Linked DNA regions of Homo sapiens. The protein of the gene in region 2 purifies or fractionates together with the protein of the main gene of each other region. This does not show direct contact. Each region holds a gene or a part of one and is shown on either strand. Other genes may lie near its edges. The genes, in order: PEX7, SST, GAB2 and PCDHGA9.

Evidence for each region.
Region 1: the proteins of SST (region 2) and PEX7 purify together in Homo sapiens (co-immunoprecipitation; one large-scale study listed by IntAct). This does not show direct contact.
Region 3: the proteins of SST (region 2) and GAB2 purify together in Homo sapiens (co-immunoprecipitation; one large-scale study listed by IntAct). This does not show direct contact.
Region 4: the proteins of SST (region 2) and PCDHGA9 purify together in Homo sapiens (co-immunoprecipitation; one large-scale study listed by IntAct). This does not show direct contact.

What each region holds. Positions count from the first base shown.
Region 1 is NC_000006.12:136,907,820-136,912,942, forward strand, and holds part of PEX7 (peroxisomal biogenesis factor 7), read left to right. Parts: intron 1-5,123. UniProt on the Homo sapiens protein: Receptor required for the peroxisomal import of proteins containing a C-terminal PTS2-type peroxisomal targeting signal. Specifically binds to cargo proteins containing a PTS2 peroxisomal targeting signal in the cytosol.
Region 2 is NC_000003.12:187,666,761-187,672,779, reverse strand, and holds SST (somatostatin preproprotein), read left to right. Parts: upstream 1-2,385; 5' UTR 2,386-2,488; coding exon 2,489-2,626; intron 2,627-3,502; coding exon 3,503-3,715; 3' UTR 3,716-3,868; downstream 3,869-6,019.
Region 3 is NC_000011.10:78,217,463-78,223,664, reverse strand, and holds part of GAB2 (GRB2-associated-binding protein 2), read left to right. Parts: coding exon 1-253; intron 254-1,137; exon of another isoform or gene 1,138-1,469; coding exon 1,470-1,560; exon of another isoform or gene 1,561-1,885; coding exon 1,886-1,988; exon of another isoform or gene 1,989-2,876; intron 2,877-3,220; coding exon 3,221-3,346; intron 3,347-4,249; coding exon 4,250-4,393; 3' UTR 4,394-6,202. UniProt on the Homo sapiens protein: Adapter protein which acts downstream of several membrane receptors including cytokine, antigen, hormone, cell matrix and growth factor receptors to regulate multiple signaling pathways.
Region 4 is NC_000005.10:141,404,908-141,411,109, reverse strand, and holds part of PCDHGA9 (protocadherin gamma-A9 isoform 1 precursor), read right to left. Parts: coding exon 5,734-6,202; coding exon of another isoform or gene 5,671-5,733; exon of another isoform or gene 5,611-5,670; intron 3,090-5,610; exon of another isoform or gene 2,908-3,089; coding exon of another isoform or gene 445-2,907; intron 1-444. Other genes in the region: PCDHGB6 (protocadherin gamma-B6 isoform 1 precursor), read right to left, coding at 490-2,907. UniProt on the Homo sapiens protein: Potential calcium-dependent cell-adhesion protein. May be involved in the establishment and maintenance of specific neuronal connections in the brain.

The DNA.
Region 1 (5,123 bases), on a different chromosome or scaffold from region 2:
TTCTAAATTTTACACGTATTTAAAGTGTTGTATTTCCATTTTAATGTTTCCTTCTCTAAAATCCACATTTATGGGACCATTATTATTGAAGATGTTCTATAATACATATGATTTGATCCACTATTGGTAAATTTTTATTATAGTCTTCTTAGTGAATGCATGTTTCTTTACTATCTTTGGATTTATGTAGCATTTAGTCCAGTATTTTGCATATAGGAAATGCTGAAATACTGGTTTAATAGAGTTGCTCTCTGGCATTCCATGTATGAAGATGTCTTAATGTATATGCCATACATACCTCTGTTTAGAAATTAATAGGCTTTATTGACATAAATTTCTGTTCAGTTTTTCAAGCTTTATTATATGTTTTGAAGAAACTGACACATTAGTTCAAAGCAAGTAATTTGTATTTCTGATTAGTGTGCTTATTCTTATAACAGAAATACCTATTTTGCTGTATTAAAGTGAAAATGAAATAATTAAAAATAGAACTTATATGGCATCTTACCCTATTAGTTTAGTTTTTTTTACTACCCTAGTAGATAGCATCTTTTAAAATAATAAGATTGGTTCTCTCTTCAAATTTTACATTAAGAAATATAACATTTTGACAAACCATTTTTTTTTCTGTAATGTCAGTAATTTTAATTCTGACTTTGATGAAAAGATTAGCATGTTGGTCTTAGCTTAAAGGAAATTCAGAAGGGCATAGGGATGAAATGTACCACAGCAGGGGCTTGTGAGTAAAGGAATACATTTTCCACTTGTGTATCCTTGGGCGGAAGCAGTAGAGCCTGGAGGCCCCTGCCCTTGAGTGTCCACATGCACACTCATACTGTAAGGGAAGAGAGTCAAACAAGAGATACCCCAGCCTTCAAAAAACCCTAGTTGGGATTCAGAAAAAAACTGCCTCTCGAAAGATTGAGTTTCGTCAGAGGAGTTATAATGCAATTATAACTTTTAAATTGCCTTAAAACTAAAACTTTCAGTTCTTCACTTACTCGGATGTATCCCACTGCCTAGAACATTTTCCTTTTTTCCACTGTGCCCCTGACCCAAAAACAGCAACAAATGCTGTCTAGCGGGTTCCTCCTTTAAGCCTCAGCTTAGATACTACTTCCACCTGAAAGCAGGCACTTCCCTCACATTCGATTATAATGGCCCCTTGCCTACTTTTATGGGACCCCATAATTCCTCTATCATTTTACATATTACGCTACAGTATAGGTGTCTCTTTGCTTACCTGTCTCTCCATTACAATCAAGATCTGTGGAGCCAGAGACCAGGACCCTTGTGTTTATTGTCGTAACCTGTACATACTTCTGACACAGAGGAGGTTCTTAATAAGTCTTTGTTGAATAAATGGATGAATAGGTGTATACATAAATTATCTTTTAGATAGCTTTGTAATTCTGAGGAATATTTGACAAACAGTTCTTAGGACACAAAGGCAAGCTCCCTGTGAAACTTCTCTAAATATTCCTGAAATTAAAAACAAACAAACAAAATATATATCCTTCAAATCCCATAAAACTTGTTGCTTTTACCCACATCTCTGACCTCACACCTAATTGGATGCTTTTTATTATGTGAGGGGCTCTCTCTACTCAACAAAATCTTGCAGTGCTACCAGAAGCCATTGCAGTGGCAGTGATAATTAATAAGAGGTCCCCTGGGGACCACATGGCACAATAGTTTTTCCTTACCAGGAAGTTCCTACATAGCAACCTTGGAGAATCTAGAGCCTCTTTGTTAGTTAGTAAAGTGCTTTTTTCTTACCTTATTATTATTTTCTTTATTGTTAGCTTGCTTAAATTTGTAGAACCAGATAGGGCTTAATTAACAAATAGAGGAATACTATTTTCATCAATTTGAATTAATCTATTCATAATTCTATATCATTGCAGTTTTAGATCTATCTTAATCCAATTAAGTATAGATTTATGAACATTTGCTGAATCAGTGGCCTTGACATTTGGTAGTTATTATAAGTCCTGAATAAATAAGAAGCTGGATTGGAGAGTGCCGAATAAGGTTTCAGAAACATAATTTATAGATACCTTGCACTAGAAACCTAAGTCTTATTTCTCTGATTCTCTTCTCTCCAGTAGCGGATGCTTAACATGTGGGAAGGCCCAGCACTTGAAAAAAATAGGCATAGATGAGACAGGGGTAATTTAACATAATGATCTTTGTGTCCTATGGTATAAAAACTGAAAACTGCAAGATTAGGCAAATAATGGTTTTCAGTTTGCCTTTTCTATGAGGCACTGTTTTAGTGGATACATTCAACAGGTTTAGGTTCTGGCTGTAGCTCTGCTACTCTATTGTGAACATGAGGACAGAGTTAACCTCTGAAATTGTAATCTATGAAATTAATTTGTTGAGCCAATATTCATTGAGTTATGTTCTAATAAGACATGGTCCATGCCCTCAAAGAGCTGAAGACAACTCTTTGTCTTCAGTTGGGAAAATAAGTACAATCAAGTATTATGGGTACAATGAATGACTTCATAGAGGAGATGATACCTAAACTGATTTTTTAAAAAAGAGACATCTCTGGCAGAGCAAGGCAAAGGGGACAGAGGAGCAGACAGAAAGGGAGGGAGAAGAGGAGTTATTAAAGGGAAGCGATCAGTAAAGGAACAAGAGCGAAGAGGCATAAGCAGCATGCTTGGATTTGAGGTGTGAGCCCGGTGCAATGAGAAATGAAATGGGAACAACCAGATCTTGAAGAGTGAGGTTTTTAAATTTAAAAGTTTGACTAAAAAGTCTATAATGCTCTCTGTAGCTTGGATTCTGATCTCAGAATATTGGTAGTGAATGATTGGCTATCACTATTCAAAATTAGTGATAGCCAAGAAATTACATTAGTCAAAACGAGGTTTCTCTTGTGTAATTTTCAGCCTTTGTAATAAGCATGAAAGGCTGGGAAATGGAGTGCAAATACTTTTGGTCAAAAGCACTCTCTTGCTACTTCATCTTTCATTTTACTGCCTACCTTGTTTCTTTTCTTCTTTTTTTTAAATTGTGGAAAATTTTGAAAACATACAAAGTAACAGAATCAGATAACGAACTTCATTACTTAGCTTGAACAACTATCAACATTCTTATTTTATTTATTCCTGTACTCTCACACATCGTTTAGTTATCGCTAACATTATTTTTACTATTTTTAGGTATAATTCACATATATTGAAATTTACAAATCTTAGATATACATTTTTGACAAATAGATACGTCTGTGAAATTCACATCATCCCAGTTATTGGAAACTGGGAAAGCCCCCAGTTTCCTTTTTACCCCTTTCCAATCTCCCCTATCCCCACCCTTCCCTCCAGGTGAGAAGAGTAACATTGTTCTGACTTTTTGTTTGTTTGTTTGTTTACCTTAGATGAGTTTTGCCTGTCTTAGAATTCTATAAGGAACTCTTCTGTATGTCCTCACTTGTTTCTGGCCTCTTACCTGTGAGCTTCACCCGTGGTACTGAGCCTGTTAGCAATTCCTCCCTTTGTTTTGCTGAGCACATGCTGTTGTATGAATTTACTACAATTTGTTACCGATTCTTTTGTTAGTGGGTATTTTGGTTGTTTTCCTTTTTTTTTAGACAGAGTCTCACTCTGTTGCCTAGGCTGGAGTGCAGTGGCATGATCTCGGCTCACTGCAACCTCTGCCTCCCAGGTTGAAGCGATTCTCCCACCTCAGCCTCCCTAGTAGCTGGGATTACAGGTGCACACCACCACACCTGGCTCATTTTATGTATTTTAGGTAGAGGTGGGGTTTCACCATGGTGCCCAGGCTGGTCTCAAACTCCTGACCTGAGGTGATCCATCTGCCTCAGCCTCCTAAAATGCTGGGATTACAGGTATGAACCACTTTGCCCAGCCTTGTTTTCGATTTTTTGCTATCGTGAATGAAGTTGCTATGAACATTCGTGTCTACATTGTTTTGCAAACATATGTTTTCATTTTTCTTGGACAAATATCTGGGAGTGGAATTACTGGGTCAAAAGATAGGTATGTGTTTAACTTGGTAAGAAACGGCCAAATTGTTTTCCAAAATGGTGGTACCATATACCTTCCCTACCAGCAATGTATGTGATCACAGCTGTTCCACATCCCTGCTGACATTTGGTGTTGTCAATCTTTAATTTTAGCCATAATGTGAATATATGGTGGTATCTCATTGTCATTTTTATTTGCATTTCCCTAATCCCTAATGATGTTGAGCACTTTTTTATGTGCTTACTTTTGCCCATCATTTTTCATTAGATTGCCTTTTATTATTGAGTTGTATTGGTTCTTTATGTATTCTTGATACAAGTTGTCAGGTGTATATTTTATGAATATTTTATATAACTGTGTCTTGCCTGTTCATTTTCTTAACAGTGTCTTTTGATGAGCAAAAGTTTTATTTTTGATTGAGTGTAACTTACCAAATTTTTGATTATTACTTTTTGTATCCCTAAGAAATCTTTACTTACCTCTGTATTGAGAATATATTTTCCTTTTTTTTTTTCTGAAAGTGTTATACAGTTTGCTTTTATATTTAGGTCTGTGGTGCATCTCAAATTCATTTTTATGTGCAAAGTTGGGGTCAGGATTCACTTTTTTCCCTATGGATATTCAGTTGTTCTGCCACCATTTATTGAAAAGACTATTTTTTCCTTTTGCTCTTTAATTGTTTTGGTACCTTTGTTGAAAGCCATTTGTCCAAGTGTGGGGCCTATTTCTGAACTCTGTTCTCTTCCTTTGATCTACTTGTCTTTATCCTAATCCTGCACAGTCTTGATTACAGTAGTTTCGTGCTGAGTCTGGAAGTCAGCTAGTGTTAAGTAGTGCAGCTTTGTTTCATTTCAAGATTCTTTTGGCTAAGTCCTGGCATTTCCACATAAATTTTAAAAATTGCCTCATCCATTTCTATTAAAAAACGAGTATATAGAAACACAGTGGTTTTCATATATTAATTTTATACCCGGAGACATTGCTATATTCACTAAGTTTTTAATGCATAGTTCCTGAACACCCTGGACTTTCTTCCCTTCATGTTTTCCTATGGCTCTGTAGATGTGAATGTCCTTGTCTTTTATGTCTGCCTCCTACAGAGGTCCAGTGGGAATGCCA
Region 2 (6,019 bases):
TAAGTGGTTCTCAGACTCATAACTCTCCAGGAGTTATAAAACAACAAAAGCAAAACCCTTAAGTCATCTCATTTACAGCTTCAGCTCTTCAGCAGGGTATGAGGGAAGCAACTGTTTACTATTCATAAGTAGATACTTAAACAGATAGACATCATGAGGTTTTTTGTTTGTTTGTTTTTGGTGAGAAGCAGTTGAGGAGGGAAGAAGAAAGAAAAGAGGAGAGAAAAGAGAGGGAGAGATGTCTTGAGGCAGAGACTGGGATAGGCACTGGCTAAGCAGGGTGAGAAGGCAGGGAAAGAGCCGGGCTGACCCAAACCAAAGTCAGAAAATGATTGAGAAGAGCAAGAAAAACAAAGGAATGAGGATACAGAGTCAAGAGAGGAGACAAAAGAAGGATTGAGTGAGGAAAATTCTGAAACATAAATTTGCAGAAAGGTTAAGGAAAAGGAGGAATAAGAAGGAGGAGAAAGTGTAGAGGGAGAGCACAAGGATGTGGAAGGAGGGGAGCAAGCGTCTGGGGAAGGAGACAGAAGAGATCCTAGAGCACAGGGGAAGATGGGGAGCTGCTATTTGTTCTTCGGCTGGCTCCTGCTTTGGAAAAATCCTCGTTTCCTACTCAGTGGGTATGCCAAAGACCACATCCTGGGTACAGGAGATATGAGATCATTTGGAGGTACCTAGAGACAGTCACAGTGATAGAACTAAACTCTGAGTCCTTAGAGGCCAGAGAGAGTTGCAAGATTTAGAGAATATAACATGTATTTCCTAGGACTGGGTTCCACAGCTCCAGATTCATTGATCTCTTAGACTACTCCAACACATGTGAATGACTTTTTAATGCCCCACTTTGTGCTTAGTCTTGGCTGGCCTTGTCAAGACCTGGAAACTTTAACACTTCTTGCTGTGCATTTCCGCTTTGCCTTGGATTACAAGCACAAAAAGAAATAGTGACAATTATTCAAGCCATTCAGGATACTTCCCAAACCCTTCTGCCTCTCAACACTGTGGTTCGGGTCTAAGTACTGAGAATATTTTAATACCTAATATGAGCTTCGCATGGTTTCCAGAGATGCAGCATATCTTTTTAGCTAATATTGGCTTTTTTGAAGCTCATAAGATAACAGCTCTTAAAGATCCTGTAGGGATCATCTCGTCCATGCTAGGAAATTAGCTGGTCCTTCCTCAGTAAGGAACTATTTAGATAAAAGCAGTCAGAACTCTGGCCTGAACAGTAAACATTTAACCAGAGTTCAATCAGAATTCAAGGACAGGTTTTCTTAAACTTTCTTTGTTTCTAGGAGATCAGGCAGAGCTGAATTTAACCAAGAATCTTTTGATCCTTTCCACATATAGATATACAATAGTGGTCACATATGTTCTGGGAGTTCCTAGACCTTATATGTCTAAACTGGGGCTTCCTGACATAAAACTATGCTTACCGGCCAGGAATCTGTTAGAAAACTCAGAGCTCAGTAGAAGGAACACTGGCTTTGGAATGTGGAGGTCTGGTTTTGCTCAAAGTGTGCAGTATGTGAAGGAGAACAATTTACTGACCATTACTCTGCCTTACTGATTCAAATTCTGAGGTTTATTGAATAATTTCTTAGATTGCCTTCCAGCTCTAAATTTCTCAGCACCAAAATGAAGTCCATTTCAATCTCTCTCTCTCTCTTTCCCTCCCGTACATATACACACACTCATACATATATATGGTCACAATAGAAAGGCAGGTAGATCAGAAGTCTCAGTTGCTGAGAAAGAGGGAGGGAGGGTGAGCCAGAGGTACCTTCTCCCCCATTGTAGAGAAAAGTGAAGTTCTTTTAGAGCCCCGTTACATCTTCAAGGCTTTTTATGAGATAATGGAGGAAATAAAGAGGGCTCAGTCCTTCTACTGTCCATATTTCATTCTCAAATCTGTTATTAGAGGAATGATTCTGATCTCCACCTACCATACACATGCCCTGTTGCTTGTTGGGCCTTCCTAAAATGTTAGAGTATGATGACAGATGGAGTTGTCTGGGTACATTTGTGTGCATTTAAGGGTGATAGTGTATTTGCTCTTTAAGAGCTGAGTGTTTGAGCCTCTGTTTGTGTGTAATTGAGTGTGCATGTGTGGGAGTGAAATTGTGGAATGTGTATGCTCATAGCACTGAGTGAAAATAAAAGATTGTATAAATCGTGGGGCATGTGGAATTGTGTGTGCCTGTGCGTGTGCAGTATTTTTTTTTTTTTAAGTAAGCCACTTTAGATCTTGTCACCTCCCCTGTCTTCTGTGATTGATTTTGCGAGGCTAATGGTGCGTAAAAGGGCTGGTGAGATCTGGGGGCGCCTCCTAGCCTGACGTCAGAGAGAGAGTTTAAAACAGAGGGAGACGGTTGAGAGCACACAAGCCGCTTTAGGAGCGAGGTTCGGAGCCATCGCTGCTGCCTGCTGATCCGCGCCTAGAGTTTGACCAGCCACTCTCCAGCTCGGCTTTCGCGGCGCCGAGATGCTGTCCTGCCGCCTCCAGTGCGCGCTGGCTGCGCTGTCCATCGTCCTGGCCCTGGGCTGTGTCACCGGCGCTCCCTCGGACCCCAGACTCCGTCAGTTTCTGCAGAAGTCCCTGGCTGCTGCCGCGGGGAAGCAGGTAAGGAGACTCCCTCGACGTCTCCCGGATTCTCCAGCCCTCCCTAAGCCTTGCTCCTGCCCCATTGGTTTGGACGTAAGGGATGCTCAGTCCTTCTAAAGAGTTTTGGTGCTTTTCTGGGTCCCTCAGCTCCCGAAGCTCTTGAGAAAACTATCAAAGGCTAGAATCCCCTTCTAACTCTTTTTTTCCCCCATGATAAGCGCAGTCGGTCACAGTTCAGGTGAGTTCTTACTTGGCATTCAAGAAAATTACAAAATCTGGGTAGTTGTCTGGGCACGAAGCGACAATGGCGTCTATCCCTGGTGCTGACCCTGGGAAGCGCTGACCCAGGTGCTGAAACGCAGACCTCTGAAGCTGCTACCTCTTAGCGTACCTCACTTCCAAACGTCGGGACTAGGGCAAAGGGGCAATCTAAAGACCGAACGCCGTATGTTTGAGATTGTGAGAAGTCTCGTTCCCCTACAGTTTACTTGGTAAAAATGGTAAAACAATTCTACTTTGTAGCTCGTGATGTGAAAATTGAATTAAACTGTTGGCACACACTTTATCTTACCAGAACGGTCTTTATGTGTGTGTGTGTGTGTGTGTGTGTGTTTGTGCGTGTGTGTGTGTGTGTGTGTGTGTTAAGTCTACAGGGACAGAAAGGTTGCAGAAACATTTGAGCTCTTAAAGCCTTTTTGTGTAACTTGGTAATTATAGCAACTATCCTTATTTTTATATCCTTGATTGATTTTAAATGTGACAAAAAATGCGCAGCTGTAAAAACTGGATTTTGTGTGTGACCAAATCTGTTCTTTAATTTAGGCTTTTCAAATTTTTTCCATTGTCCTCCCCACTTCTCTTTCTCTCTTTTTCTATCCCTTCTGCCCTATACAGGAACTGGCCAAGTACTTCTTGGCAGAGCTGCTGTCTGAACCCAACCAGACGGAGAATGATGCCCTGGAACCTGAAGATCTGTCCCAGGCTGCTGAGCAGGATGAAATGAGGCTTGAGCTGCAGAGATCTGCTAACTCAAACCCGGCTATGGCACCCCGAGAACGCAAAGCTGGCTGCAAGAATTTCTTCTGGAAGACTTTCACATCCTGTTAGCTTTCTTAACTAGTATTGTCCATATCAGACCTCTGATCCCTCGCCCCCACACCCCATCTCTCTTCCCTAATCCTCCAAGTCTTCAGCGAGACCCTTGCATTAGAAACTGAAAACTGTAAATACAAAATAAAATTATGGTGAAATTATGAAAAATGTGAATTTGGTTTCTATTGAGTAAATCTTTTTGTTCAATAATACATAATAAGCTTGAGTGGCGGTTTCAGTAAAGTTATTTGAGATAGGTACTCCAATGTTCACAAACATCTATTTAAAATTCTCGGTGGCAATAAAGTTTACATTTTAAATGATAACTATTATAACATGAGTCATTTTAAACAGAAATAATTTCACATAACTCTATGCATTCAAACTTTAATTCAATGATAATTACTGGGAGAGGCTGACATAAACATTAATTACATATTAAGTACACCTAAATTATATGTTGGACTATTGAAATGAGTGTGTGTGAATAGTTAGGCTGAAAAATCCAACTATCTACCAGGTTGATATGTAAAATACATAACATATGAAAAGATGGAAGGAACAAAGTCATTTGGTGGTTGAGAAAAAATCTGACTTAAATAGCTAAAATGAGGTTCTGAATTTGTTTCTAGTTTGTAAACATTTATCTAGAGAAATACCATTGCTTTTGTGTCTTCTTTGACAATCCTCTCTAATTGAACAGTGCTAAATGACTGTTTTAAAAGCAAGCTTTTAAGATATTTTTTCTCAGGGAGAAATATCACTTTTATTATAAGATTCCTTCTGGAAGTACTATAGGTTGCAAGAAATGCATATTGGCTTACCTCACTGAGTGCTATCTATATTGCAGGTATTGGAGCTCAAAATCATAATTATGAAATAGCTGAAGGAGATATCTCAAGTCTTCTCTTAATTCTATCAATATGGGAGTCAAATAAAAACACAAAAATTATTCTTAAACACTCAGTAAAGGTGATAGTCTTATAACAACATGCTAAATGGGATCACTCAAGACAGAATGTAAACATTGCTAATTTAACTTCCTGAGACCTAAAGAGATATCCTTTGGGGGATGTGTGTTTTAGCTATCAACTGCATTTCTGCATAGCTACTGGAATAAAAACCAAACATAAATATGTATGCTCAATATAAATCCTTGTAGTATAAACTAACTGATAGTATCATATAAACATTTAAGAGGAGCTTAATATTTTATAGAAAATATTTGTGTTAGATAATACACATTTGAATGTGGTTGGCTTAGAGGAAGTTAATTTCTAACAGCTGATCAAACAAAAGAAAAAAAGCCAAGCCACTTTACTAATCTCTGTGAAAACAGAACATCCTTTGATGTTCTGGTATACCTTTTATTTGCAAGACATTTAGGTGTGGGGATTAATGCATGTCCACTTATGGGATCTGTCTGTGCCAAAGGCCTTATGTACACTGGCTACCAAAAAATTCAGTGGAGTAACAGCATCATATTATAATTACAGCACAGATGAGAACACAACTTAATGATTTTCTGGGCTGTGTATGAGTGTCAGGGGATTTCGAGTTTTTAGTACCATCTTTGTTGTCAGTTCTCAATGGTAGTATGAAAATAATTGGCTTGGGAAGCTAAGGTGGGTGCATCACGAGGTCAAGAGATCGAGACCATCCTGGCTAACAGGGTGAAACCCCGTCTCTACTAAAAAAAATACAAAAAAATTAGCCTGGCGTGGTGGCGGGTGCCTGTAGTCCCAGCTACTGGGGAGGCTGAGGCAGGAGAATGGTATGAACCCGGGAGGCGGAGCTTGCAGTGAGCAGAGATTGCACCCCTGCACTCTAGCCTGGGTGACAGAGTGAGACTCCTTCTCAAAAAAAAAAAAAAAAAAAAAAAGAAAAAGAAAAAAAAAGAAAATAATTGGCAAGAATTATGTAGTCATATGCTCACATATATACATATTTTTAATTTAAAGCTTAAATTGAGTAAAACATCTGAACATAATCAACTTTCAGCCTCAGTTTGCCCATTTCTGTAAGCAGAGGGTTGTATTAGAAAAGGCACTCACATCTCTTTCAGCTGTGACTGAGGACTGCCACTTTGTGCTTTGACATTGAAAAGGGTGCTCAAGGATTGCTGATCTTGGGCTGTTTTAATTAATATGTAGAGTATAGCTTTGTTTTGCTTTGTTTTATTTTACATATACAGAGGGTCTTACTTTTTACTTCCTATTTAGTTTATTTGAGTTCCTTTTAAGTCTGATTCACTGAAAGAGTCTAGCATTCTAGCCTGTTTATTATCCATCCAGAGTGAATCATCTATATATTTTCCTT
Region 3 (6,202 bases), on a different chromosome or scaffold from region 2:
ATTGTGGGCCGATCGGACAGCACCAATTCTGAAGACAACTATGTGCCCATGAATCCAGGTTCTTCCACCCTGTTGGCCATGGAACGAGCAGGTGATAATTCCCAGAGCGTCTACATCCCAATGAGCCCAGGGGCCCATCACTTTGACTCACTTGGCTACCCATCAACAACCCTTCCTGTGCACCGAGGCCCCAGCAGAGGAAGTGAGATTCAGCCACCCCCTGTCAACCGCAACCTCAAACCTGATCGGAAAGGTAAGTCCATTCTTTCCCCTGTCCCATCTCTGGACAGTGGCTAGGGACTCTTTCCATTTGCTTAGGGGTCATGTGGATCCTGGACTTGAGAGGTGTGACTTGGGGCAAATCATGTAAAATCTGAGTCTCAGTTTTCTTATCTGTGAAATGCAGATGGTAATTCCTACCTCCCAGGTTTGCTGCAAAGGAGAGCATCTAGGATAGTACTTTGGTACATAGCAGGCGTTCAGTAAAGTCAGCTTTGTGCCCCCTGCATGTAGACCAGGCAAGGTCCTCGTCTGCTACAATCTCACTCTCCTGGCATTGGATCAGTGGCAAGGATTCAAAGGGAGGAGTAGGATAGCTAGGCAGAGATAGCCCCCTGTGGGTCTGGCCAACAGGGAATTCAAATCTTAGCATTTGGAACTGAAGCCCTCAAGCCCTTATGGCATCTACCTTCCTCCACTGTGGCTTGCACCGACCTGGCCAGGAGCAGCAGGGAGTAGTCACGGTGACCATCTATACTTCAAATATGGTCTCTTGGCTGGGCGCCATGGCTCACGCCTGTACGCCTGTAACCCCAACACTTTGGGAGGCTGAGGCGAGTGGATCACCTGAGGTCAGAAGTTCGAGACCAGCCTGGCCAAAATAGTGAAACCCCGTCTCTACTAAAAATATAAAAATTAGCTAAGCGTGGTGGCAGGCGCCTATAGTCCCAGCTACTAGGGAGGCTGAGGCAGGAGAATCACTTGAACTCAGGAGGCAGAGGTTGCAGTGAGCTGAGATTGCGCCGCTGCACTCCAGCCTGAGCAACAGAGTGAGACCCCGTCTTAAAAAATACATATATGTGTGTTAATATATAAATAGTATATATTTTTATAAATATTAATATATTAATATATAAATATATTTTATATATAGTCTTTTATTTTTAAATGAAGTCATAAATTGAGGGAGAAAAATCTGTTGTCAAACCCTGTGTCCCCACTTTTGATTCTGAAAATATAATTACCATAGATACAGCAGAAAGAATATATAATTTGGAATCTGAAGACATGACTTCAAGGCTCATCAATATGGGCAAAGATTATACAACCTCGCTGAGCGTCAGTTTCCCTGTGTGAAACTGGAATGACTTTGCAGGCCTTTATAAACATGCTCATGTGTTATATATAAGGTGTGTATGTGTAGCATTATCATTACTGGCTGATTACCAGACTTTCTTTTCCTGCTCCAGCAAAGCCAACACCACTTGACCTGAGGAACAACACCGTCATCGATGAACTCCCCTTCAAGTCACCTATCACCAAGTCTTGGTCTAGGGCCAAGTAAGTGCGTATGTGTGGGGGTGGGAGCTTGGAGTCGGGCCATTAGGGAAAATGAGTGATGTGGTAGCTGGCCTGTGGGCCGGGACAGCTGGATTCTGATGCTAACGCTATCATTAGCTGATCATGTCTCGATGTCTTGTGGCTTGGTTTCCTCAGCTGTAAAAGAGAATAATTATACCTGCCCTATATCAGATCTTAATCTGATGGAGTGTGCAGCTCTAATGGCTGAGGTCTGGGTGTGTGAGGGTCAGGGCCCAGCTGGAGGCTAGAAACATGGCAGCAGCCATGCAGCTTCCCCAGTGTTAACTCTTCCTTCCCACAACAGCCACACCTTCAACTCCAGCTCCTCCCAGTACTGCCGCCCCATCTCCACCCAGAGCATCACCAGCACAGACTCAGGAGACAGCGAAGAGAACTATGTCCCTATGGTGAGTCCTTCGGGCTTCGCTGGAATGACGCCTTTCAAGTCCCCTGGGACCCACCCCTCAGTTCCCCACTTCCCAGCTTAGCTAACTCACCTCAGCCCAGGGACTCCTTGTATTATTCATGATTTAGTCTCCTGCTACAAACCCTTCTTGAGCACCTGTTTATCAAGCAGTAGGAGTTGTCATCAGATGTAAGGAAGACATGAGACCTGTCCCAACGAAGTCATGGTCTTCAAGAGCAGGGGCCTGCCTCTCATGACAGTGACATGGGTGGCATGATCTGTGCCCTTGGATAGGCAGTGCTGGAGGTATCTCCTCAGTGGTGGAGGTATCTCCTCAGTGGTGAGAGGCATACGTGCACATAACTCACTTTGGTGAGGCCATAATAGAGCTATCAACACAGGCAGAGGAGGATATTTCTTCCCTGAGATTTCCATTAAGGGCGTAACTGCCCAGCACCTGGTAGTCACTGCATAGATAGTGAAAGAATGAATTAACCAACCAGTAAAGCAGCCAACAAACAGAACACAGGACTATCACCTTCTCATTAGAATAAGACTTCCAGAAAGTTCTAGAGGAGGTGGTGCTCTGCTAGAGCACGAGCCTGGATGGACAGGATCCTAGAGCGTGTCATCTGAAGAAATGCGGGCTTGTGCAGCCTGGAGATGAAGCCACCCTCTTCAGATCTTGGAGGAGCTAGGCGGGGGAGCAAGCTGCTTTGGGGTGACTACCCCACTCTAGGCCACAGGTGGGAGTTTCACAGGGGCTGATTTGGTGCGACAGAAGAAAACTTTCCAGTGCATAAAGGAAATGTGCTCCTTTCTTAAGCGCCAGCAAGCAAAGGCTGGATGTCTCAGGAGAGCCACTGTTGATGAGACTTGGCCTGATGTGCTAGAAAGGAGGCAGTGTGGTACAGGGGTTAGCACAGGTTTGGAAGTCAGAAAACAGACCTGATTCCCATCACTCAACAGCTGTGCAGCCACAGGCAAAGTCACTTCTCTGAAAGTAAAGTGAACCACAGTTTCATCTTTGCTTTAAACAGTATCAACAGTAATCATACCTACCTTACAGGATTGTCATGAGGATTAAAATGAAAACATGAAAAGTCCTTAGCATGGTGCATGTGTCAGAGTAGGGCTCAGGGAAACAGTGTTCTTACTCCCAGAGGTGTTTTTCTGGGTGGTGGGTTAGTCTGTTTTCTGCAGTCACTCACAGTTTTTTCCTCCTCGTGACAGCAAAACCCAGTGTCTGCATCTCCCGTTCCCAGTGGCACGAACAGTCCTGCCCCTAAGAAGAGCACCGGCAGCGTTGATTATCTGGCCCTGGACTTCCAGCCGAGCTCCCCAAGCCCCCACCGCAAGGTGCCTGGAGTAGAGTTGGGGGGGCAGTAAGAGCTCTCAGGGTCCCGGAGGCAGAGATCATGGAGGCCAGGGTGCCTTCAACACTGAACAGCAGCACTCAGCCTCCCTCCTGCTCCAGTACCCAGCTTTTATGATGCATCTTTAGTCATAGAGCTTTCATCTAGGTCTAAAGACTCCTATTCCTGCTCTCAGAGCACAGTACCCTCAGTCAGAGAACCTCATCAGTCAGCCCATCCCCCGTGTTGTAGAGATGGGCAAATGAGTGCACAGAGATCTGATTGTCCTAAGGTTACAAAGTGAATCAGCAACAGATCCAGGAATGAGGATACTGCCTCCTGGTCCTGGGCTCTCGAGTGGGTCCAGAGCCCTGCCGTCGATACATCAGCCTTCAGAAGGGACTTCCAGGCCTGGGAAAGCCTCCCCAGGAGGCATCCTTATAGCTAAGCAGTCTAGACAGAAGGGTGCAGAGCTGTGCCTCAGCATGGTTCCCCTTCACAGGGTGGCAGTGAGCACAGCACGTAAAGTCCTGTGGCTGATGTTTGTTTGCACCTAGCAAATTCCTTCCCCTGGATGAGCGACCTGACAGAGATGGGTGGAGGCAGAGATGAAGGCCTGGACCCATCCACCAGGGCCAAGGAAGGGCCTGGGTCCTCCCAGAAGCCGGGAAGTAAGAAGGGCTGGCAGGTGCTGCTACATCCTGCAGGAGGGATGATGAGTTTGGAGTCTGAGCTTTAAAGCCCACATTCAGAAAGAGAAGCCAGGCTCCTGAGGCTGGTCAGTGGCAGGCAGAGGCCATGCTCTTCTCCCCTTCAGACAGCTCAGGAAGATCCCGTGCCCACCTTCTTCCTCCCCACCTAACTGGTAACTCACAGCTACTCCCTCTTTCCCACTCTGTCCCCTCAGCCATCTACTTCATCCGTCACCTCTGATGAGAAGGTGGACTACGTTCAGGTGGACAAGGAGAAGACCCAGGCCCTGCAGAACACCATGCAGGAGTGGACAGACGTGCGGCAGTCCTCAGAGCCTTCCAAGGGTGCCAAGCTGTGATGAGAGGGCCACCGCAGAGCCCAGGAGGCAGCATCTCCAGAGCTGGCCCTTCCCATCTCCCCTCTCCCCTCTCCCGTTCTTCCTCCCATCCACCTCCTCTCTACTCTGCCAGTCTCAGCCTTCAAAGCACTTGACATCAGGGACCCTGAACCCTTCCCCTGGGAGGTGAGGGCCTGATCAAGGCACCTCCTCTGCCCACTCGGGGCCCAGCTGTGATTTTTATCAGTAATGGCCATGCCTCCACCCACCTTAGTTAGGAGCTACTTCCAAAAAGCATCCTTCAGCCTCTTCCTGTCCTTTAGACCTGACTCTCTACCAGATGTTTGGAGGGAAGGGCTGGGGCTCTGAGCCAGATTCCACACCTCACGTTCAGTCACAGCCCTCAGCTATCTTCCCTCCGGCCACTGGGCTACCTCTCCTTCAGTCCCAGAAGACAAGTCTCACCAACCCAGGGAGTCAAGGACCAGCAAACCAAAGTGGATAATGGACTTTTTCATTCCTGTTTTTCTTGGCAGGAGAGAAGCAAGGCCACTAAAAGAGGAGATGGTGGAGACGGAGGCTCAGCAGTGGTCTTGAGGGGTAAAGGACTTAGATGCCCAGATGAAGAGGGAAAGCTGACATCTGCAGGGAACCCACTTTGAGGCTGAGGCCATGGCAGGACAGCTGCTGTGGGGTGCAGAGGCAGAAGATGAAGGACAAAAGGAAGGGAAAACTGATGGCCAACCTAGAGCAGCAAGGAGCAGGGCTTGGAGCTCGGGTGGTGGAGATGACAAGGACACTGTGGGGTCTGGGTCCCCAGAACTCTGGAGCTACAGGCCACTCTAGGCCCAAGGGCTAGTCCTCTTCCCCAGTCCCCTCAGAGGCCCCCGCCAGCCCCACCTTGAAAGCAGCATACAGGGGAAGGCTTGGACCAAGCTGGGCGACCAAGCACATGGGGCAGGAACACATGGTAAAGGGGTGGGGAATATGGGAGGGAGTGTGGTGTGGATGGGGGTGATGCAGGGACTGAGGGGAACCCTGGGACAGGCACAGGCTGGGCAGAGGCACAGGGCAGTGCAGGGGACTCTGCAGTGGGGTCGGGAAGTGAGTTTCTTTGCAGTGAGCAGTGCAGTGGAAGTCGGGCACAGAGGTAGCAGACAGATGTGAAGCAGTGGTGAAGGCCATGTAGCAAGTGGGGAAATACATCCAAAGGGCCTGGGAGTTGGGGGGTGCCCAACGCAATCCTTGGGGGTGCAGGGTGGAGCAGAAAGTGAAGGAGGGACACGTGCAAGAGTGGTGTGCATGGTGGTGTGACATGAGGACCGTTCCTAGGATGGGACAGTGGGTCAGGCAGGACAAGGAGAAAGCAGGGCAGAATGATGCCTAGAGGACCACATCAGGCATGGCTGACAGCTTGTGCCCATGGGCTGTGGCGTATGTCAGATCGCAGGGTAGGAACGAGTCTGGCCTGGTGCCGGCCCAGTGTTTCCTCAGCTCATCCGCCCTCTGTTGCTCCCTAGCATTCCAGGAGCCATCTTGGACTCTCCTCCCCAGGTTTGAAAGGCCATCAGATTAGCAGGGACGGGGTGTAGGGCATCACCCAAGGTTCCTTCTCTTAAACTAAGGGTGGGGGATCTGAATGTTTTTATGTTGACTGTTCTTGACTAAATTTTCAAGAGTTTCAGAAGCAACAGGACAGACCAGACGTTTCATTCTACCCTGGGGCGAACAGAACTTCTTCCTCCCAAACAATGACTTCCTGCCATGTTTGATGGGGACAGCTACCACTGTCCTCTGCCCCCATTCCCCTTTCAGCTCCCATGAGCATGC
Region 4 (6,202 bases), on a different chromosome or scaffold from region 2:
GAGAGGCCAAGGTGGGAGGATCACGAGGACAGGAGTTTCTGAACAGCCTGGTCGACATAGTGAAACCCCATGTCTACTAAAAATACAAAAAATTTAGCTGTGGTGAGGGGCACCAGTAATCCCAGCTACTTGGGAGGCTGAGGCAGGAGAATCGCTTGAACCCAGAAGGCGGAGGTTGCAGTGAGCAGAGATCACGCCACTGCACTCCAGCCTAGGCAACAGTGCGAGACTCCATCTCAAAAAAAAAAAAAAAAAAAAAAGACAAAGACAAAATATCTTCAGTCTGGTGACATTATTTTACAAAAAGATAGAGCAACTTATGAACCAAATACATAGTGAAAACTATAATTGAAAAAACATTGAGAAAATATTGTAAAAAGCTATGGATTTTAAACATATGATTCTAGATATGAAAATAAAGTAGTATGCCTAAAATATGAGAAACTAGTAGACTATTAGATAAATCACACACAAAAAAGAGAAACTCACCGAAGTCAGAGTCTCAGGATGTGAAGTCAAATCCTCCCCACCATGAGGTGGAATTAAGGCTCCAGGAGAAACACTGCAAACCATGTCTTCATTGGAATGTAGGGGCACACTGCATTTTAGGAAATTAAACTCTTTTGTACCCGTATGTGCAATGCACAGATTATAAGAATAAGGCAAAGTCCCCTCACTGTAGTTGGGGGGAACTACAGGTCCAGACTTGACACAGAGACCAGGATGGAAGCAGTCCCAAGTAGCAGGGCTGAGAGAGCGTCGCAGGCGCAAGGCAATGGCCAGAATCACGGCGAGGAGGAAGAGCACTGAGATTAAGGCCAAGGCCACCACCAGGTAAAACTGCAGTTCAGCCTGGGGGTCAGAGAGTACAGGGCGGTCGCTGAGGTCTGGCAGTATCTCTTGCAAGTTGTCTGCGAAGACCAGATGAAGCGTGGCGGTGGCAGAGAGTGGCGGCTGTCCACCGTCACGCACAGCGACCAGCAGGCGCTGGCGGGCTGCGTCCCTGTCGCCTAAGGCTCGAGCCGTGCGCACCTCCCCAGTGCGCAGCCCCAGGCTGAAGAGTCCGGGCTCACTGGCCTGCAGCACGTGGTAGGACAGCCAGGCGTTGTGTCCCGAGTCGGCGTCCACCGCTACCACCTTAGTCACTAGGTAGCCGGGCTCTGCAGAGCGAGGTACCATATCGAAGAACGCGGAGCCGTCAGGACCCAGAGCTGGGTACAGCACCCGCGGTGCGTTGTCATTGCGGTCTCCCACCAACACGCGCAGGCTCACGTTGGCGCTGAGCGTGGGCGAGCCGTGGTCGCGGGCCTGCAGCGTGAGCGCGAAGGCGCGCAGCTGCTCGTGATCAAAGGCGCGCTGCGCGAACACCACCCCGCTCTGCGCGCTCACTGACACGTATGACGACACCGCCAGGGGCTCTAGGTCACTCGCCACTATAGAGTAGGAGATGTGGCCATTGAGCCCCAAATCCGGGTCAGAGGCGCTCACTTGCGCAATGGAGGCTCCTGGCGGGTTGTTCTCGGCCACGTGGACCACGTAGGACGTCTGGTCGAAAACTGGGGCGTTGTCGTTGATGTCAGCGACATACAAGGTGATGCTTCTACTGGAAGAAAGAGGCGGCTTGCCCCTGTCAGTGGCTACGATGGTGACATTGTATTCTGGTGTCTGCTCTCGGTCCAGGGCTCCATCTGTCACCAGTTTGTAGTAGTTATTGGAAGAAGAATAAATCTTGAATGGAATGTCTGTTTCTATATTACACCTGACTTCTCCATTTCCTCCGAAATCCAGATCCCGTGTTTTGAAGAGGGCAACAACCATTCCTGGAGGTGAATTCTCCAAAATCTGATCAGAGAGAGAAGTGATGATTATTTCTGGGCTGTTGTCGTTTTCATCAAGGATTTCTATGATTACTTTACACTGGGTAGAGAGACCACCTCCGTCCTTCGCTTCCACTTCCATGGTGTACCTTTCTACATCTTCAAAATCAAATGACTGGTTATTCTTAATCATACCTGTTTTCTCATCCAATGAGAACATATGTTTTGTGCTCTGGGCAGTGCTTCGGAAGTAGTAGTTTATCTCAGCATTGACCCCCTCATCCTGGTCAGTGGCTGTCACTTGCAACACAGGGGACCCAGGGGGCAGATTTTCACTAAGACTAATTCTATATTCGTCTCTGCTGAAAACCGGGGGGTTATCATTGGTATCCTTGACAGAAATTTCTATGTGAGCGGTGGCACTTCTTGGTGGGTCCCCTCCGTCCAAGGCAGTCAATATCAAGCTATGAGATCTCTGTTCTTCCCGGTCTAGGAGTTTCTCCAGAGATAACTCTGGGTATTTGCCACCATCGGAATTAACTCTAACCATTAATGAAAAATAAGGATTAGAGTTTATCTTATAATCTTTAATTGAGTTTATGTTTATATCAGGATCCGTGGCAGGGTCAAGCGATAGTCGTGTACCAGCGGATGCAGATTCGAAAATTTCTAAATGTATTTCCTTTTTATCAAATTGAGGGGCGTGGTCATTAACATCCTCAATCACCACAATGACATGAAAAATATTTAAAGGATTTTCCACCACAGCTTCCAATTGCAACTCACATCTTCTTCTCTCTTTGCATATTTGCTCACGGTCTATTCGGTTCTTCACAAGTAAGTCCCCGCTCTCCGCGTCTACGCTGAAGTGCAGCTTCTCCGCGCTCACTCGCAGCTTGCGAGCCGACACATCCAGGACACTGAGCCCTAGATCCTTAGCGAGGTTCCCCACCACCGAGCCCTTGGCCAGCTCCTCCGGAATCGAGTAGCGGATCGGCTCACTCAGGGTGGGGTAGAACAAAGGCAGCAGCAAAGGAAATAGCACCTGCCGCGGGCCGGCCCGGCGCCTCTGCGCGCAGCTCCCTCCCATCGTTCGCTCGGGTTCTCGCTGGGTCCCCGCTTTTCCAGTTGGAGAAAGTGCACTCTACCGCGCTAAAAGAGCATTCGGCCCAGGACAGGAGGAGTCCCGGGTCTCGGAGCTGGCAATCCGCTGTGCTGGGAAAGGTCTGCGCAGCCGGGAGGCTCTGTGTGGGAGCTGGTTTTCTTCTTTCTGTTGTTGGCTGCGCAGGGAATCCCAGGCCAGAGGCTGACGGATCCCCGGCGTCAGCGCTTGCTCTGCACTGGCCGACAGCGGCGCCCAGAGGCTCCGTGCGGGACAGCAGCCCGGTTTTTCATTTTGAATTCGGTCTCCGAAATGTATATATTCTTCGAAAATGCAGGTGTACATCCCCCTCAAATTTTGCTCTCACCATAATATTATAGTAGATATTTCTATGCTTTGTGTTTTAAATAAATCTATTATGCACAATTTCAAACTTATACAACAGTAGGGAGTATATATAGTGAACCTTCACATAGCCATCACCCCACCTTCAACAATGATCACCACAAAGCCAATCTTTGTTTAATATATACTGCGCTCCCCCATTATTTTTAAGTAATACGAGATATAGAATGTCAACCAATGCTTCTTTTTAAGATGAGACATTAAGGTCAAGAATTTTATCTTTCAGCTTATGTTCTACAATCTGTTACCAATGCACAATAAGTTAAGTCCTACATAGCCTAAGAAAAACAGAAATAAAGATTTTCCATACTCCATTCAGTCATCTGTCTGGTGAGCCTCGTGTTCTGGTTTTAAGGGCAAGAGACATTTTTGTGGTATCGAATAGTAACTACCTACCATGACATACAAGCCTTCATGGATATCTGTTATGTTTTCCCCAAATTAACATACATTTCAATATTTATAAATACTAAGTATGAAGGCTACTCCTCAGAACAGAAATTGTAACAATTTTCTTGTTGCATGGTTAAAAATATGAGCCTGAAGTATGCTTTATTTTTTTTGCTACCCACTTAAGGGGGAAAACGTGTTTGAAATAATTAAAATGTCTGTATGTCATAAAGGATTCCCAGACACTTCAGCTTTTTTTTCTTAAAAATAAAGCAACTGAAACCCAAATAATTACAAACAAATAAAACAATTCTTCATTTCCACAGAAATGCCAGCAGTCATCAGTGTATCTATGGATCACATGTTTAGCATAGAATTTTGAGTCAACTTCAAAGCTTATTTTCAAATGTCTTGTGAAATGTTATTTACTATTTGAAACAACACTATGTTTAAAATAACATTAAATAATACATTATTCTCTTCCTTATAGCTAAAAACAGTAAAATAGTTTTAGAATCTTCCCAGCAGTTCCTGAGAATATTTTCTTAAATTATATCTGATATGCAAGTTCATTTCTAGACTCAAAAGTTGGAGAATTGAGCCAGAAATAATATATAAGTGAGAGAAATATTTTTAATTCCTTGTTTTGTCATTTCACAGTGTCCAGTCTTAGAAACTTCTCTTGAGCAAGCATATACTATAGAAAAGAAGAATGTCCTACTATTCTCCATAATTTAACATTAAAGCATTAGGAAATTAAGACCTTTGAAGATATGAGAATAAAAGATGTGACAACTTTCACCATTAAAGGGAAAAAATTGGTTTACTAGGGTTTGGAAGTGGATAACTGAAGTTTGAATCTTCGTCAGAAAATATCTGTAAACACAAACAGACTTTACACACTTGTGATCTGAAAAATATAACCTCAAAGAGGTGTTTTCCTGTCATAGAAATGGAAGAATAGAAGCAATAAATCTGGGCTTTCAGCTGTTTCTCTAAGAAGAATACATTTACCTTTTTATCAGTTTACCCTTACAAACATAGTATGACCTGAATAAATGATCGTAGGAGTAAGAATTTGCTGGGTGAGGTGGTTCACACCTCACCCAGTGCTTTGGGAAACTGAAGCAGGAAGATCGTTTGAGACCAGTCTGGGCAACATAGCTTGCTAGCCCTCCCACCTCAGTCCTAGCTACTGTGAAGGCTGAGGTGGGAGGATTGCATAAGCCCAGGAGATTGAGACTGCAGTAAGCTTTACCCACACCACTGCATTCCACCCTGGACAACAGAATGACACCCCCATCTCTTAAAAAAAAAAAAAAAGGAGTAAGAATTTTATGATATGAGTCCACTGCAACCAATGAAGCAACCCTACCCAAAAAGCCCACATCAATGCAGGCTGAGAGCTACCCCATGAAGTATGGTTTACGTTGACAGCAGGTTAATTATTATGAGAACATGAAAGTTATATCAGCAAATATAACTAATAAATGCCTCCTTTCAGTGTTGGAGCAACAATTAGGCCCAGTGAAAAGTGATGAGAAACACACTGATATCAACTTATACTACCTTAAGTACAGACAGTTAAAGAGAAAGCTAACTATAATAGAAAGTTAAGGGCCAGGCGCAGTGGCTCACGCCTGTAATCCCAGTGCTTTGGGAGGCTGAGGTGGGTGGATCACTTGAGGTTAGGAATTCAAGACCAGCCTGGCCAACATGGTGACACCCCGTCTCTACTAAAAACACACAAAAAATTAGCCGGGCGTGGTGGCACGTGCCTGTAGTCCCAGTTATTCTACTTGGGAGGCCTGTAGTCCCAGCTACTCTACTCTAGTCCCAGCTACTCTACTTGGGAGGCTGAGGCAGGAGAATCGCTTGAATTTGGGAGGCGGAGGTTGCAATGAGCCGAGATCACACCACTGCATTCCAGCCTGGGTAACAGAGTAAGACTCTGTCTCAAAAACAAAACAAAACAAAAAACAAAAAAAGAAAAGAAAGAAAGAAAAAAAATGAACTCACCGGAACCAAAGGGGTGTCTTCTATAGGAAACTTGGAATCAACAGAGACGCACAAAGGCTCATTTTTCTCACAGCTCTGCTGGCTGATGAGTGTGTCTGCATAGTTGGGCTGGGGGAAGATCAGGTGACTCTTCCTTGAGTCAGCGGTGAGGGAGAACTCCTGAGAATAGGTCTGTAGGAAAGCTCGAACCCCATCTACACCCACAAAGTGTGAGGTGGGCACACCAGCCAACCCATCACTGGTAGCCCGCAGCAGATGCGAGGAGTGCCAGTGCCTCAGCCTGAGGGCCAGCAGCGTGATAACGAAGGTGAGGAAGACACAGGAGACGACTGCCACAGCCACAACGAGGTAGAGGGTAAGGTCTGAGGCCTCCAGGTCTGCAGGGATCTGAAGACTGCCCAGGTCAGCCAGGATGTCTGGGATGCTGTCAGCTATGGCTACTGTGAGCGTGACAGTGGCCGAGAGAGGG